Homo sapiens: one gene and its partners. The protein of the gene in region 2 purifies or fractionates together with the protein of the main gene of each other region. This does not show direct contact. Each region holds a gene or a part of one and is shown on either strand. Other genes may lie near its edges.

Region 1 (3,500 bases), on a different chromosome or scaffold from region 2:
AAACACAGCAGATGCACAAATAAATATCTACTCAATGGGCAATCATTCTGCTAATAGGAGTAACTAGTCATGCATGAATCACAGCTTGCTATTTAAACAAAGGATACACTGGGGAAATGCCCACTTAGCACACAATGTACACAACTATATTATCCTGTTACTGTAATTACGTAATCATAGTAAAACCTGAGTTTTCTGAATCTTCCAAAGTCTCATTTAAAAATAATTTTATGGCCAGGCACAGTGGCTCATGCCTGTAATCCCAGCACTTTGGGAGGCCAAGGCGGGAGGAACACTTGAAGCCAGGAGGTTTGAGACAAGCCTGGGCAACAAAGGAGACCCCCTTTTTTTTTTTTTTTTTTTTTTTTGAGAAGGAGTCTCACTCTGTCGTCCAGGCTGGAGTGCAGCAGCACCATCTTGGCTCACTGCAACTTCCACTTCCTGGGTTCAAGCGATTCTCCTGCCTCAGCCTCCTGAGTAGCTGGGATTACAGGCACGTGCCACCTCACTCGGCTAATTTTTATATTTTTGGTAGAGATGGGGTTTTGCCATGTTAGCCAGGCTGGTCTTGAACTCCGGACTTCAGGTGATCCACCCACCTCGGCCTCCCAAAGTGCTGGGACGACAGGCGTGAGCCACTGCACCTGGTTCTACAGTTTTTCTTAATAGAAAGCCATATTTTATGTCTTCAGATTAAAAAAAAATTGTTATGTTTGGCTAAGAACAAAAAAACCTTTGCTAACATAAGGGGCATACAAAAGAAAAACAATAGGAACTGCAGTTTTCAAGGACGTATACTTATAAAGTGAAAAAGAGGTGAGAAAATAGAGCAATTCTGAAAGTTTTTATAGAGATTGGTCAATTTAATCACTAATCTTTATTGTTAGCTGTAATTCATAACCTAAGAAATAATCATATGAAAGTTTTCTCAATTGATTTACTTTCTTTGTTTCTTTCTTTGTTTTTTCCTTTAGAGATAGGGTCTCAGTCTGTTGCCCAGGCTGGGAGTGTAGCGGCACTAACATGGTTCACTGCAGCTTTGACGTTCCTGGCTCAAGCAATCCTCTCACCTGAGCGTCACAAGTATCTGGGACTACAGGTGTGCACCATCACACCCAGCTAATTTTTTAATTTTTGTAAACAGGGTTTACACCATGTTGCCCAGGCTGGTCTGAAACTCCTGGGCTCAAGGGATCCACTCACCTCAGCCTCCCGAATACTGGGATTATAGGCATGAGCGACTGTACCTGGCCTCAAATGATTTTCAAAAAGAGCTGGCTCAATTTACAAGTAAACAGAAGTCCCCTTCCGGAGTTATCTTTACAGAAGAAAGCTTTACAGTTTTGCAGGAAATTTTATTTCACTGCTGAGGCTAAATGATTTTGAGATCATTAAGAGACAGGTAAAGTGGAAGAAAAAAAGAACTTATTATAAACAAGAATCAAAGTCAATTTTTCTTTTTCTTTTTTTTGAGATGGAGTTTTGCTCTTGTTGCCCAGGCTGGAATGCAATGGCACAATCGCGGCTCACTGCAACTTCCACCTCTGGGGTTCTAGCGATTCTCCTGCCTCAGCCTCCCTAGTAGCTAGGATTACAGGCATGGGCCACCACCCCCAGCTAATTTTGTATTTTTAGTAGAGACGGGGTTTCACCATGTTGGTCAGGCTGGTCTCAAACTCCTGACCTCAGATGATCCACCCGCCTTGGCTTCCTAAAGTGCTAGGATTACAGGCGTGAGCCACCGCGCCCAGCCCAAAGTCAATTTTTCAAATTAAACTTGATAATCTGGTAAGATATTCCTACTGCTTTTAGAGAACAAATCTTTCCTAAAATAAAATGTTCGGTTGATACTCACATCAACTTAACAGGAAAATAATTCTTTTACCACATTTTTTTGGGGGAAGGAAACTTACAAAGTTCTACATCTTATCACAGCTAGTTAAACGAAGTAAAAAATGTTTATAATTTACAAAATCATCTCAATATTTGGCCACCTGATACTCGATCTCAGGAGGAAAATATACGTGAGTACTTTTTCCCAGGGCCTCCACTCACATAAACTATAATGTGAACCACGGCCTCTGCAGTTGTACAACCTAGCAGCCTTGGTTTTATCTTAGAGGAAGTCAATAACCAATATGCCACTCTAAAAGTGGTACACAAGTTTCTGGACTTACCAGCAGTTTAAGCAGCCAAAACCGGGATTTATAGTAGAAAGTTTTGGTGGGGTTGATAAGGAAGAAAACCATAAATCCATAAAGGGCAAGTGGATACACATATGTGGGGATGACACTAATTGGAGCAAAGAAGCATGCCAGAAGGCTCAGGCACCACAATATCCCGAGGAATCCAGCAATCTAGTAAAGGATGGGGAAGACAGAAAGATAGAGAAAAATTGTTATTTTTACTTTTACCATTACTTAAAATATCTTTAATAAAACAAAAGTAAGAAACATGATTAGTTATTAAGCTAATAATCCTCTTCAAGTAGAGGATGGATTTAAGTACCCACTAAACCAGATAGCTATATAGCTAATGCAAACTATATTCATGAGGTGTTATGTCTTGCTTTGATTACCTCAAAGAGATGTTGATGAGACAAATTGCTTCTCGGATTAAGTTCAAAGATGAGTACATGGTTTACTCCAGCCTGTCTCCAACCATACGTGTTGATGCCCAGTAGAAAAAGGAATTCAATCAGAAGAAAGCCACCCCGATAGATTCTTATCAAGGGCCATATACTTCTATCTGTTTCAAGTTTAAATACAGCTGAAAGAATATTAAGATATTGGTCAGTTATAAAATTCATAACTTCCCTTGAATTAATAATCTTTTGTCTTCATTCTCAATGATATAGCCCTGGCATAGAAATTTTTCATAAATAAAACCTAAACCTAGATTATCTATCATCTATCTATCTATCTATCTACCTATTTATTTTTTTGAGACAGTCTCACCCTGTTGCCAGGCTGGAGTGCAATGGCGTGATCTCGGCTCACTGCAACCTCCGACTCCCTGGTTCAAGCGATTCTCCTGCCTCAGTCTCCCGAGTAACTGGGATTACAGGCACGCACCACCACGCCCAGCTAATTGTTGTATTTTTAGTACAGACAGGGTTTCACCATGTTGGCCAGGATTGTCTTCATCTCCTGACCTCGTGATCCACCCACCTTGGCCTCCCAAAGTGTTGGGATTACAGGCATGAACCACCCCGCCTGGCCAAACCTAGATTATTTTAAGAGCCTTAAAAAGTCGCCTGTGGGTTCTTTCTCGTCTTCATTTTACTCTGCAGAATGTCACTAGAATAATTTCCCAAAACTTGACTTTCAGCATGTCATCCCATTGTTCTATTAGTTTTTTAGATTACAAAGAATCATGGTGAAGTGGCTTAGAATCATGTGATCAGTTCTGTCATTTGGGGATCCGGCATGACAAAACCTCTCTTTGGCTTCATTTACTCCATTATTAAACTGGATATAGTAATATCTACCTCACAGAGT
Region 2 (3,500 bases):
CTCACCCCGCGGCCTGCCTCGCTTGGGGCTGTTGCAGGTGCTCAGCACTCCAGCCCAGCTTTTCAGACTCTTGGGCTACAGCTTCTGTTCCTTTTCCTTTTCTCTCTCTTCCCAGTCTGTCCAACCAACATTTTTTTTTTTTTTTTTGGTAGAGACAGAGTCTTGCTCTGTGACCCAGGCTGCAGTGCTGGAGGGCTGTGGCACGATCTCAGCTCACCGCAACCTCCGCCTCATGAGTTCAAGCAATTCTCCTGCCTCAGCCTCCCAGAGTAGCTGGGACTACAGGCATGCGCCACCACGCCTGGCTAATTTGTTTTGTATTTTAGTAGAGATGGGGTTTCACCACGTTGCCCAGGCTGGTCTTGAACTCCTGAGCTGAGGCAATTCGCCTGCCTCGGCTTCCCAAAGTGCTAGGATTACAGGCGTGAGCCACTGCACCCAGGCTTTTTTTCTTTTTTTTTTTTTTGAAACGGAGTCTCACTCTGTCTCCCAGGCTGGAGTGCAGTGGCATGATCTGGGCTCACTGCAGCCTCCACCTCGCATGCCCAACCATATTAAGCAGACACATGGCCTGTCTGTCCCAGGATGTTCCATCACTTCAGCTCCTGGGTTCTGGGGGCCACCCTGTGAGGCTCACTACCTCCTGGGGGCAGTATTTTATTTCATTGTGAACTCAGCTCCATCATGGACTGTGTTTTCTGGGGGAGTCGGTTGGCTTAAGCAGGGGTCTAACGTCTGTCCCCACGGGGTCCCGGCCTAGAAGCACTCAGATGAGAAGCACTGAGGACCCCGCCCCATCACTAGGGGCCTGATTCTGCCCATCTGCCCAGCGGCACCTCCTCCCGCCCCATCAAGAATCCCTCCAGCGCACTCGACAAAGCAAGAGGCCCACACCCCCCTGCGAGCCCACTGTCCTCTGTGACCTCCGGGGGAGTGGGCAGGCATTTTCTGTAAAGAGCCACCAAGCGAGGGGGACACGAGGCCCAGGCTGCTAAAGAGCAGGACGGCCCAGGAGTGATCCCTTCCTGCCGCTCTCTGACAGCCCCAGGGAAGCTTGCTGAGAGGCCACCAGTGACATCAACTCTCCCGCCTCAGAGCGCCCCACACCTCAAAATGCTTCCAGCACCCAGCACCAGGGCTCCCTCTGCTGGTGCACCCACCATGATGGCCGCCAGAGAGGGGCACCACAGCCTCTCCCCGTCTGCACTGGGCTTCCCAGCACTTCCCTGCTCCCAGGTCTCTGTACCCACGCGGCCCCCAAGGAACTGCAAACCCTCCACACAGCCCAAACCTTCCTTGTCCCACAGGGTCCTGTCCTCAGACAGGGACTCCGGGCAGCAGCTCTGACCTTCTCCCCACGCTCCACACCCACCGCCTGGGTCAGCTCCACTGCAGTGGCCCCTGGAAGTTCCGGCTTCCAGCTACCAGGGAGTGGAAACGACCCAAGGGCTGAAAAGGGGACAAAATGCAGGAGCCAAGAGTCCTGGGTCCTTGGACACAGACCCCTGCGAGATCTGCAGAGGGGCCCTGCGTGTCCTGACTGGGCCCTGAGCTGGGATGCCCAGGGGCCTCCCTGCTCCCCGTGGGTGAGGGCCGGGCCGCGTGTCTGCTCTGCCTCGAGGATCTGGTGATGGAGATGCTGCACCCTGTCCACGGCTGGGTCAGAAAAGACTCTGAGGAAAGCATCTTCCAGCCAACACGTGCTGCTCCCTCCCAGGCCTCACACTTCCACAAAGCACACGGCCCTGTGGGCCTCAGTCTCCCAGCCCCCAGGCCCTGATGCTGCCAGCAGCCACCGGTGCCTGGGAGTGGACCCTGGCCAGGCCCAGCCCTGACACAACTGCAACCAGGACGCCCAGAGCTGAGCTGAGGGTCAGAAACACAGACGCAGAGCAACTCAGGACACCCCAGGACGCCCAGAGCTGAGGGCTGGCTGACCTGGCTTGGACACCAGACCCCAGAAACAAAGACACAGGAGCAATTCATGCTGTCCTGTCAGGGGAAGAATCTAGAAAGGCGCCTGCAAACCTCAAGGAGGCCAGAGGAGCGCGTGCAGAGTGCGAAGACCTTGGCAATGGTCCCAGCATGCCCCCGGGGTCTCGGCCCTGGGCTGCGGTGGTGACCCTGCTCCTGCAGGAGCCCAGGGCCCTCAAGAGCTTGTGGCTCCCCACTGAAGTGGGCAGAGACCCCCAGGGTGCAGGGTCCGGACGAAGCAGCACAGCCACATGCCACCCTCCTCTCTGTGGGGGGATTTGGGGCTCACATGTGCCTCCCTCCCCTCTGTGATAGGAAACTTGGGGTTCAGGTGTGCCTCCCGCCCCTCTGTGATAGGAGACTTGGGGTTCACATGTGCCTCCCTCCCCTCTGCGGGGGATCTGGGGCTCACGTGTGCCTCCCTCCCCTCTGTGATAGGAGACTTAGGGTTCACGTGTGCCTCCCTCCCTTCTGCAGGGGATCTGGGGCTCACATGTGCCTCCCTCCCCTCTGCGGGGGATCTGGGGCTCATGTGTGCCTCCTTCACCACTGCGGGGGATTTGGGGCTCACGTGTGCCTCCCTCACCTCTGTGATGGGAGACTTGGGGTTCACGTTGCGGGCGGCCGCGATCTCCTGCAGCTGGTGCACCACCTCGGCGATGGACAGCCGCTCCTCCGGGTTCACCTGCAGCATGGCGCCTGCAGCAGAAGCACAGCGCGCTCGGCCCCACGGTTCCCCAGGCGGGTCAGCACCCCCTGCACTGGCAGAGGTCACAGACCACCAGAGGCCACTCCCTCTACACACATCAGTGACGTCAGAAGCAAGAAGGGAGCGGCAAAGGGAAGAACAAAAACCGAACAAAATGATCAAAAATCACCACTCAGAGCACCGCAAATTCACCAGCGGGGTGGGCGGCAGGGGAGCTCTCTGGAAACCCCCCCCCCAGGGATGTTGTCAAAACTATGGTGACGGGCGGGAGTGGGGCCAGGTGAGCAGTGCCCCAAGGGGAGCGGGGTCTCCAGAGCCACGCGGGGTCTGTGCTCCAGGGTCCTGCCCCACGCACGCATTCCACCGGGACTTACGGATGAGGCTGTGGAAGACCGTGTACTGCGTGTCGTGCGGGGGGATCGAGTACTTCCCATTGACTATTCGAAGTTTCGCTCCATCCTCAAAAGGGTGCTGCCGGAAGCACAGCAGGTACAAGATGCAGCCCAGGGCCTGCGGGGAGAGCAGGGGTGATGCCTAGGCCCACGGGGAGCGCAGGGGTGACGCCTGGGCCTGCGGGGAGAGCAGGGGTGATGCCCAGGCCCACGGGGAATGCAGGGGTGACATCGGAGCCGTGGGGAGCGCAGGGGTGACACTGGGGACTGCAGGGAACACAGGGGTGATATCGGGAACATGGGAAATGCAGGGGTGACACCGGGGCCTGCGGGAACAACAGGGGTGACACCCGGGCCGCGGGGAGCGCAGGGGTGACGTTGGGGCCGTGGGGAGCGCAGGGGTGACGCCTGGGCCTGTGGGGAGT
Region 3 (3,500 bases), on a different chromosome or scaffold from region 2:
TTCACAGAAAAAAATATATAAACAAATAGGACTTGTTTGGCCAGGCACGGTGGCCACGCCTATAATCCCAGCACTTGGGGGGACTGAGGCGGGTGGATCACTTGAGGTCAGGAGCTCGAGACCAGCCTAGTCAACATGGTGTAACCCCAACTCTACTAAAAATACAAAAATTAGCAGGGCATGGTGGCATGCACCTGTAGTCCCAGCTACTCGGGAAGCTGAGCCAGGAGAATCACTTGAACCTGGGAGGTGGAGGTTGCAGTGTGCCGAGATCACGCCACTGCACTCCAGAGCCTGGGTGACAGAGCGAGACCCTGTTTCAAAAAAACAAACAAAAACAAACAAACAAATAGGACTTGTTTAATTTTAAGTTTTTCTATGCAATGTATTTTAACTTTCAGCCCTTACTATCAGTTATTCCTTTGTTTTTTAGACACAGGGTCTCATTCTGTAGCCTTGGCTGGAGTACAAGGGCCTTATCATCATAGCTCATTGCAGCCTCAAACTCCTGGGCTTGAGATCCTCCTACTGCAGCTTCTTGAGTAGCTGGGACTACAGAATAGCTGTAGTCCCAGCGTGCATCACCACACACAGCTATTTTTTTTTTCTATAGACACGGGTCTCCCTACATTCCCCAGATTGGTCTCGAATTCTTGGCCTCAAGCAATCCTCCCACCTCGGCCTCCCAAAGCACTGGGTTTACAGGCATGAGCCACCAAACCCACCATTCTACCAGTTGTTTCTATTATAATCTAGCACAGATTGTCATCTAATGTAACACAAAGTAGTATACTTAATATATTTAACGTACTGAAAAAATTAGTATATCAACATTTCATCCTGTTTTATAAGAGCACCATGACTTTCAGGTATTCTACTTCCTGAATTGGTTTGAAAATGTATGTCCAAAATACAAAACCTTAAAAAAAAAAAAAAAGTCCACTTCCTCTTCCACATGGCAACTTCCCAAATTTTAACTATTATTTATGAAAGGATCTAGTCTAGCCAACTTTATTTCATAGATAAAGAAACTCAGATTCAGTGATTTAACTCCAATTAATATTCTCTTCTTCAGACAAAATGCCTCCAACAGTTCCTCAAATGGCATACGTTCTAGATCCTGAAAACTACAGTCTTCTCTTTTCAAGACATACTCTAGGCTGGGCACAATGGCTTACACCACAGGGAGACCTCATCTTCACAAAACCCAAAAAAATTAGCTGGGTGTGGTGGCGTGTACCTATAGTCCCAGCCACTCAGGAGGCTGCATTAGAAGAATCACTTGAGTATGGGAGGTAGAGGCTACAGTGAGCCGTGATCGCACTGCTGCACTCCACCCTAGGTAAAACAGTGTGAGACCCTGTCTTAAAAAAAAAAAAAAAAAAGACAAACTTCAGTTTCCTTACTGGTGGCCCCTCTTAGGATATACTCAAACAAAATTATTAGATGGGGTTTGATTAGAGTATAATGGAATGATGAACACTTCCTCAGCCATGCTGCAGTTAGACTGCCTTAAGACTGGCAAGTAGCCTAAGCCATGTCAGTTCAGATAGCATGCTATCAGTAAAGCTGTTGATATGCTACACTGTAGTAATCTAGCTCCACTCTCTGATTGATCCCCTGATCAAGTCATATTATTGCTTACCCAGTTTCTGACTCATATCTCTCATAATCCATTTGCTTACTACTTTAATCCTTCCCCTATATTTTTTAACTAAGATCTAGGAACTTGTTTCTGCTAAAACTAATCCTGTTTGGCAGCCTAGTTAATTAATTCCTAGAGTTTGAGCAACTAGCAGCTCTCTGTAACACCTATGTGACTTGATTACCCAGATCTTGCTAGGCAAACTTCTTCCTATCTTTAGGAAACCACCCATCCTCATTATTCCTCCAAGATACTTTCTGAAAGCACCCCAAATAAGGAAAATATCAAGATGGTACTGTGACAAATATTTTAAATACATAAGAAAAAATAAATGTAGGGAGACTTACATGGGTGTCACACCCCTGCCCCACCAAAGGAAAGGGTGGAGAACACATGTGTTGAACTAGGAGTGACCAATCTAAACTAAAAAGGTCAAGCAGGGGCAGGAAGTTGAGTTTCGCAATGAAAGCATTAACAACCTGTGCTTTGGGTTTTGAGCTGAAAAGAAACTGTTCCCAGGGTACTCTATTTTCACATTTGCTATTTGTCTTGTCATTTTCCCAACTTTATAGGCTCCTGAGTATGAATAAACTTTAAAATAACCTAGTCAAGAGGTCCCAAATGGAGGTCCAAGGGGGAAAGTTTTGAAAAAACTGGTTATCTTCCCCCTGAAATTCCATACTGTCCTTTGACACCCCTTCCTCCAAATCAGGACTGAGTAGGCCTAAACTCTCTAGGATACTGTGACATATAACTAAATTTGGGAAGCCATTTGAACCATATTTGAATATCTCCTATGACAGGGAACTTACTCCTTCCAAAATAGCATGTTGTATCACTGGAGTTTGAAAAAGGGAGGGCTGGCAGACCTTGGTGGCTCACGCCTGTAATCCCAGCACGTTGGAAGGCTGAGGCAGGCAGATCACCTGAGGTCGGGAGTTTGAGACCAATCTGACCAACATGGAGAAACCGCGTCTCTACTAAAAATACAAAATTAGCCGGTCGTGGTGGTGCATGACTGTAATCCCAGCTACTCGGGAGGCTGAGGCAATAGAATCGCTTGAACCCAGCAGGCAGAGGTTGCGGTGAGCTGAGATCACGCAATTGCACTCCAGCCTGGGCAACAAGAGAGAAACTGTCTCAAAAAAGTGAAAAAAAAAAAAAAAAAAAAAAAAAAGGGAGGGCTTTTAGAGTCAGATGGGTTTGAATGTCAGAACTTTGCTGCTTGCAAAGAGTTCTGCAGCCCTCTCCTTGACCTCCAACTTGTTATCATGAAAATTTTCAAATATACACAAAGTAAATAATAGAATAAACACCCAGGTATCCATCATCGGCTTCAACAATTATCAACATATAGCCAATCTTGTTTCATCTATAAGCCCTCCAAACCCCAATACCTCACTTGATTTTACTACATTTTAAATTCTACAGTATACATCTCTAAATATAAGATTCATTTAATTAATTGCAATACCATTATTACACCAAAATATTAACAGTAATTCCTTTTAACTTCTTTACATCTCAGTTTCCTCAACTGTAAAATAGGGATGGGTCATACTCTGGCCTCATAGGATTCTTGTGAGCTTTCTGTCTCAGTGATTAAAAAAAAAATGCAGAAGAGTCCTTTGGCTTTGGCAACATATTGGTAAAAATAATAATAAATAAAGAGTTCGGTTTGAGTATGTACAACATAGATAAAAAGCATGTAAGTTCTTGGGTTCCGAATCCCAGTCTTGGAGCTTTGGACAGTAAATAACCCACCTACCCAGAAACCTCAACTTGCTTAAGATGATGACTACATTGCATCTGGAATGGTAATATCAGCTTAGCTGGGATAATCTATTTCTCTCAG
Region 4 (3,500 bases), about 78 Mb from region 2:
GAGCAAGGTGCTGGGAAATTCAGTGCCTGGAGAGGGCTTGTTTCCTCACAGATGGCCATCTTCTCACTCTAACCTTATGTAGTGCAAGGGATGAGGGATCTCTCTGGGGCCTCTTTTATAAGGGCATTAATTCCATTCATGAGGGCTCTCATGACCCAATCATTTCCCAAGGGCCCCATCACTAAATAGCATCACCTTGGGCGTTGGGATTTCAACATATGAATTGCGGGAGGAGTCACAAACATTCAGACGATAGCAGAAAGCTTGAGAGAAGTGCAGAAAATACCAAGCACATCAGTGTAATATAAGTAGGGAGTAAGAGTAAGAGATTAAGGCTGGAGAGGTAGGTTGGAGGTCATACTGAACTGGAGGTTCAGGTCAGGGGGTCCTGAATCCTAGAGTAACGAGTTTGTACTTTACTTGGTTAGGCAAGTAAGAGAGTGACATGAGCATAAGTCCATTTTAGGAAGAATAAACTGGAAGGAATACAAGAATTGGTTTGGCAAGGAAAGAGTCTGAAAGAACAGTCCAAATGCTAATATAATTCTCTAAACGAGATGTATTAAGGACCCAAATTAGGGCTGACAGCATTGGAAACAAAAGGTACCCAATTTCCCACACATATCAAGGGTAAACTTTGTATCTGTAAACTTCATCAGAGAAAGTACTGTCATACCTCCTCCTCATATATTCTTTTTGAATAAAAAGGTTTTGTTTTGTTACTAATACTCTCTAAAATACATATATTGTGCATGAGTCTCTTAGAGAACACAATCAAGATAGTAAAATAAGCAATTAAGGTGGCATGCCCACTGAAACTAAATAGTATTCTGAAATGTCACACAATTTAATTTGAGCTTCTACCCGGATCTCAAGGACTAGCATGTAAGGCAACTTCTTAGAAAAGACCTTTTTCCAATGATTAAAAAATAATTTTAGGCCGGGCGCAGTGGCTCATGACTGTAATCCCAGCACTTTGGGAAGCCAAGGTGGGCAGATCACCTGAGGTCAGAAGTTAAGAAACCAGCCTGGCCAACACGGTGAAGCCCTGTCTCTACTAAAAATACAAAAATTAGCCAGGTGTGGTGGCAAGAACCTGTAATCCCAGCTACTTGGGAGGCTGAGGCAGGAGAATCACTTGAACCCAGGAGGCAGAGGTTGCAGTGAACCACAACTGCAGCACTGCACTCCAGCCTGGGCAACAGAGCAAGACTCCGTCTTGAAAAAATAAAATAAAATAAAATAAAAATAATTTCATACTTTAGGATTAAAAAATAAATTGCCATTCCATTGTGAAGTCTGTCAAAGAACTCAAATTGTATAACGATCAAACACAATCCTTTCATTATGGTCTCAATCCTGAAATTGTTCATTGCTATTCCTCCCTGTCCCATGCTCCTCATTTATCTAAAAGAGCAGTTAAAATCAGTTACATAGACAGAATCCAAGAATACTAAAATGGAAAAAGATGTTACAAATTCATTTTTTCCACTTCATTTTTTTCTTGAGGAAACTGAAGTCAAAACGTCACAATGCAAGTTAGAGGCAGAACAGGGATTACCAGCTGGTATTTTTCCCCGATAGATGCGTCCAAGAAGGCACTATTTCAAAGATAATTAAAAATGTTAAAATGGGCAAACTAGTAACAACAATCATTCCATATTTTAAAATAATACTTACTGCAAAATGCCTCTAATGTTACTGCAATTCTACAAGACTAGGATAAACCAAAAACAAAGTCTCTCTGTAGAAAAGGCCTTACAACCACTTTCCTGCAGAGAGAGACTTTTGAAACAGTTAGCAGACATGTGCTGACTGACCTCATTTGTAAAGCTGATACACATAGACAAAGAATCTCCAAATTAACTAAGTGCCCAGCTATTTAAAACAGCTCAGTCATTAACCACTCAACTTCCCAACTTAGTCCCCTAAAAATAGCAGGCTGTGGGTAGATGAATGGTTCACCAGATGCATGCAAGATAAAACAAAGGAATAAACAGTCCCAATCTTTTGGAGATGAAATATTATACCCGACCACTAGAAAAGTGTGGCAGCTTTGAAATGGTAGTTCAAGACTCTTAACTTTGGAATCCCAAGTCAAGGCTTTAATCATTTTGATAACTACCAAATGAGCTCTATTGGATGTATATGAAACTACTTCAAGTTCTGACAAAAAAATAGGAGGGAAATGGTGAAAGAAAACCAAGATAATATACAAGATCAGAAAGAACACTATATAAGACCCAGGATCAACATAAGGACATCCGTCTCACTTTCTAGTACATTCTCTAACATTGACAACATCAAGGACCTTTTCCAAGTTTCCCTACTGTGCACCCCATGATGAAACATACTAACAAATATTAATTCATTTTCATTATTTTTAAAATATCGAAGACATAGCCTTTTCAATCTGCCCAGCATGAGAATGTCAGTATTAACCACAATAGTTGACTACAGCCTAAAAGCAAAGATATTTGGCATGTTTGTACAATTTAGCACTTTTATTTTTATTTATTATTTATTTATTTATTTATTTATTTTGAGACAGCGTCTTGCTGTGTCACCCAGGCTGGAGTGCAATGGCTCTATCTCACCTTACTGCAACCTCTGCCTCCTGGGCTCAAGGGATTCTCCTGCCTCAGCCTCATGAGTAGCTGTTATTATAGGCACGTGCCACTATGCCCGGCTAATATTTGTGTTTTTAGTAGAGATGGGGTTTCACCCTGTTGGCCAGGCTGGTCTCGAACTCCTGGCCTCAAGTGATCTACCTGTCTCAGCCTCCCAAAGTGCTGGGATTACAGGCGTGAGCCACCATGCCCATCCTGTACAATTTAGCACCTTTACTGGAGATAAATGCATTATAAATTTCCACTGTTTTTTTGGAATACTGAAAATTTAGAATAATTGTTTTAGTGTCAGTAGCTTGTCCTTGAATAAAACTACTACCTCTAGAGGAAATACATTAACGGACAATCAAAATTACATCCTAGGAGCTATCACTACAATAATAACATAAACAACCCAAAAAAGAACCATTTGTTAATATTGTATATAGTGTCCTTTGTTGCAAATAATTTCCATTTTATAGTGAAATCATATGCTACTATATAGGTCAAAATTTTATATAGCTGATTGAAACTTGAAAATTCAATATGGCTGAGGGACACATAATTATCTAACAAACTATTCAGATATTTTTCAAACACAAATGTGATACTTATTCAGGATAAATGTGATACCAAATATATAATAAAGTCACTATAATTTCCAAATCAGATTTCACTGAAAGCGTATAACCAAATCGGAACTTAAAAGTTCACTCATAGTTATGAAGAGATTTGGCAATGCACTGTCAGGTACTGTCACACATTATCTTCTCTAATCTTCATAATAGATATTAACTCCTTGTTTCAGAAGAGGAAACAATGTTTTCTAAGAGCTTAATTAAACAACAACAAAAAAGGGTGCTGAGTAAGTACTACTGGACAACTGAATGC

What was found. Proteins that work in one complex are often made in the same cells at the same time.
Region 1: the proteins of GAK (region 2) and XPR1 purify together in Homo sapiens (affinity purification with mass spectrometry; one large-scale study listed by BioGRID and IntAct). This does not show direct contact.
Region 3: the proteins of GAK (region 2) and PIK3C2A purify together in Homo sapiens (affinity purification with mass spectrometry; one large-scale study listed by BioGRID and IntAct). This does not show direct contact.
Region 4: the proteins of GAK (region 2) and BMP2K purify together in Homo sapiens (affinity purification with mass spectrometry; one large-scale study listed by BioGRID and IntAct). This does not show direct contact.

Annotation. Positions count from the first base shown.
Region 1 is NC_000001.11:180,824,022-180,827,521, reverse strand, and holds part of XPR1 (solute carrier family 53 member 1), read right to left. Parts: intron 2,770-3,500; coding exon 2,579-2,769; intron 2,358-2,578; coding exon 2,178-2,357; intron 1-2,177. UniProt on the Homo sapiens protein: Inorganic ion transporter that mediates phosphate ion export across plasma membrane.
Region 2 is NC_000004.12:890,817-894,316, forward strand, and holds part of GAK (cyclin-G-associated kinase), read right to left. Parts: intron 3,194-3,500; coding exon 3,058-3,193; intron 2,674-3,057; coding exon 2,561-2,673; intron 1-2,560. UniProt on the Homo sapiens protein: Associates with cyclin G and CDK5. Seems to act as an auxilin homolog that is involved in the uncoating of clathrin-coated vesicles by Hsc70 in non-neuronal cells. Expression oscillates slightly during the cell cycle, peaking at G1.
Region 3 is NC_000011.10:17,162,987-17,166,486, forward strand, and holds part of PIK3C2A (phosphatidylinositol 4-phosphate 3-kinase C2 domain-containing subunit alpha), read right to left. Parts: intron 1-3,500.
Region 4 is NC_000004.12:78,782,850-78,786,349, reverse strand, and holds part of BMP2K (BMP-2-inducible protein kinase), read right to left. Parts: intron 1-3,500. UniProt on the Homo sapiens protein: May be involved in osteoblast differentiation.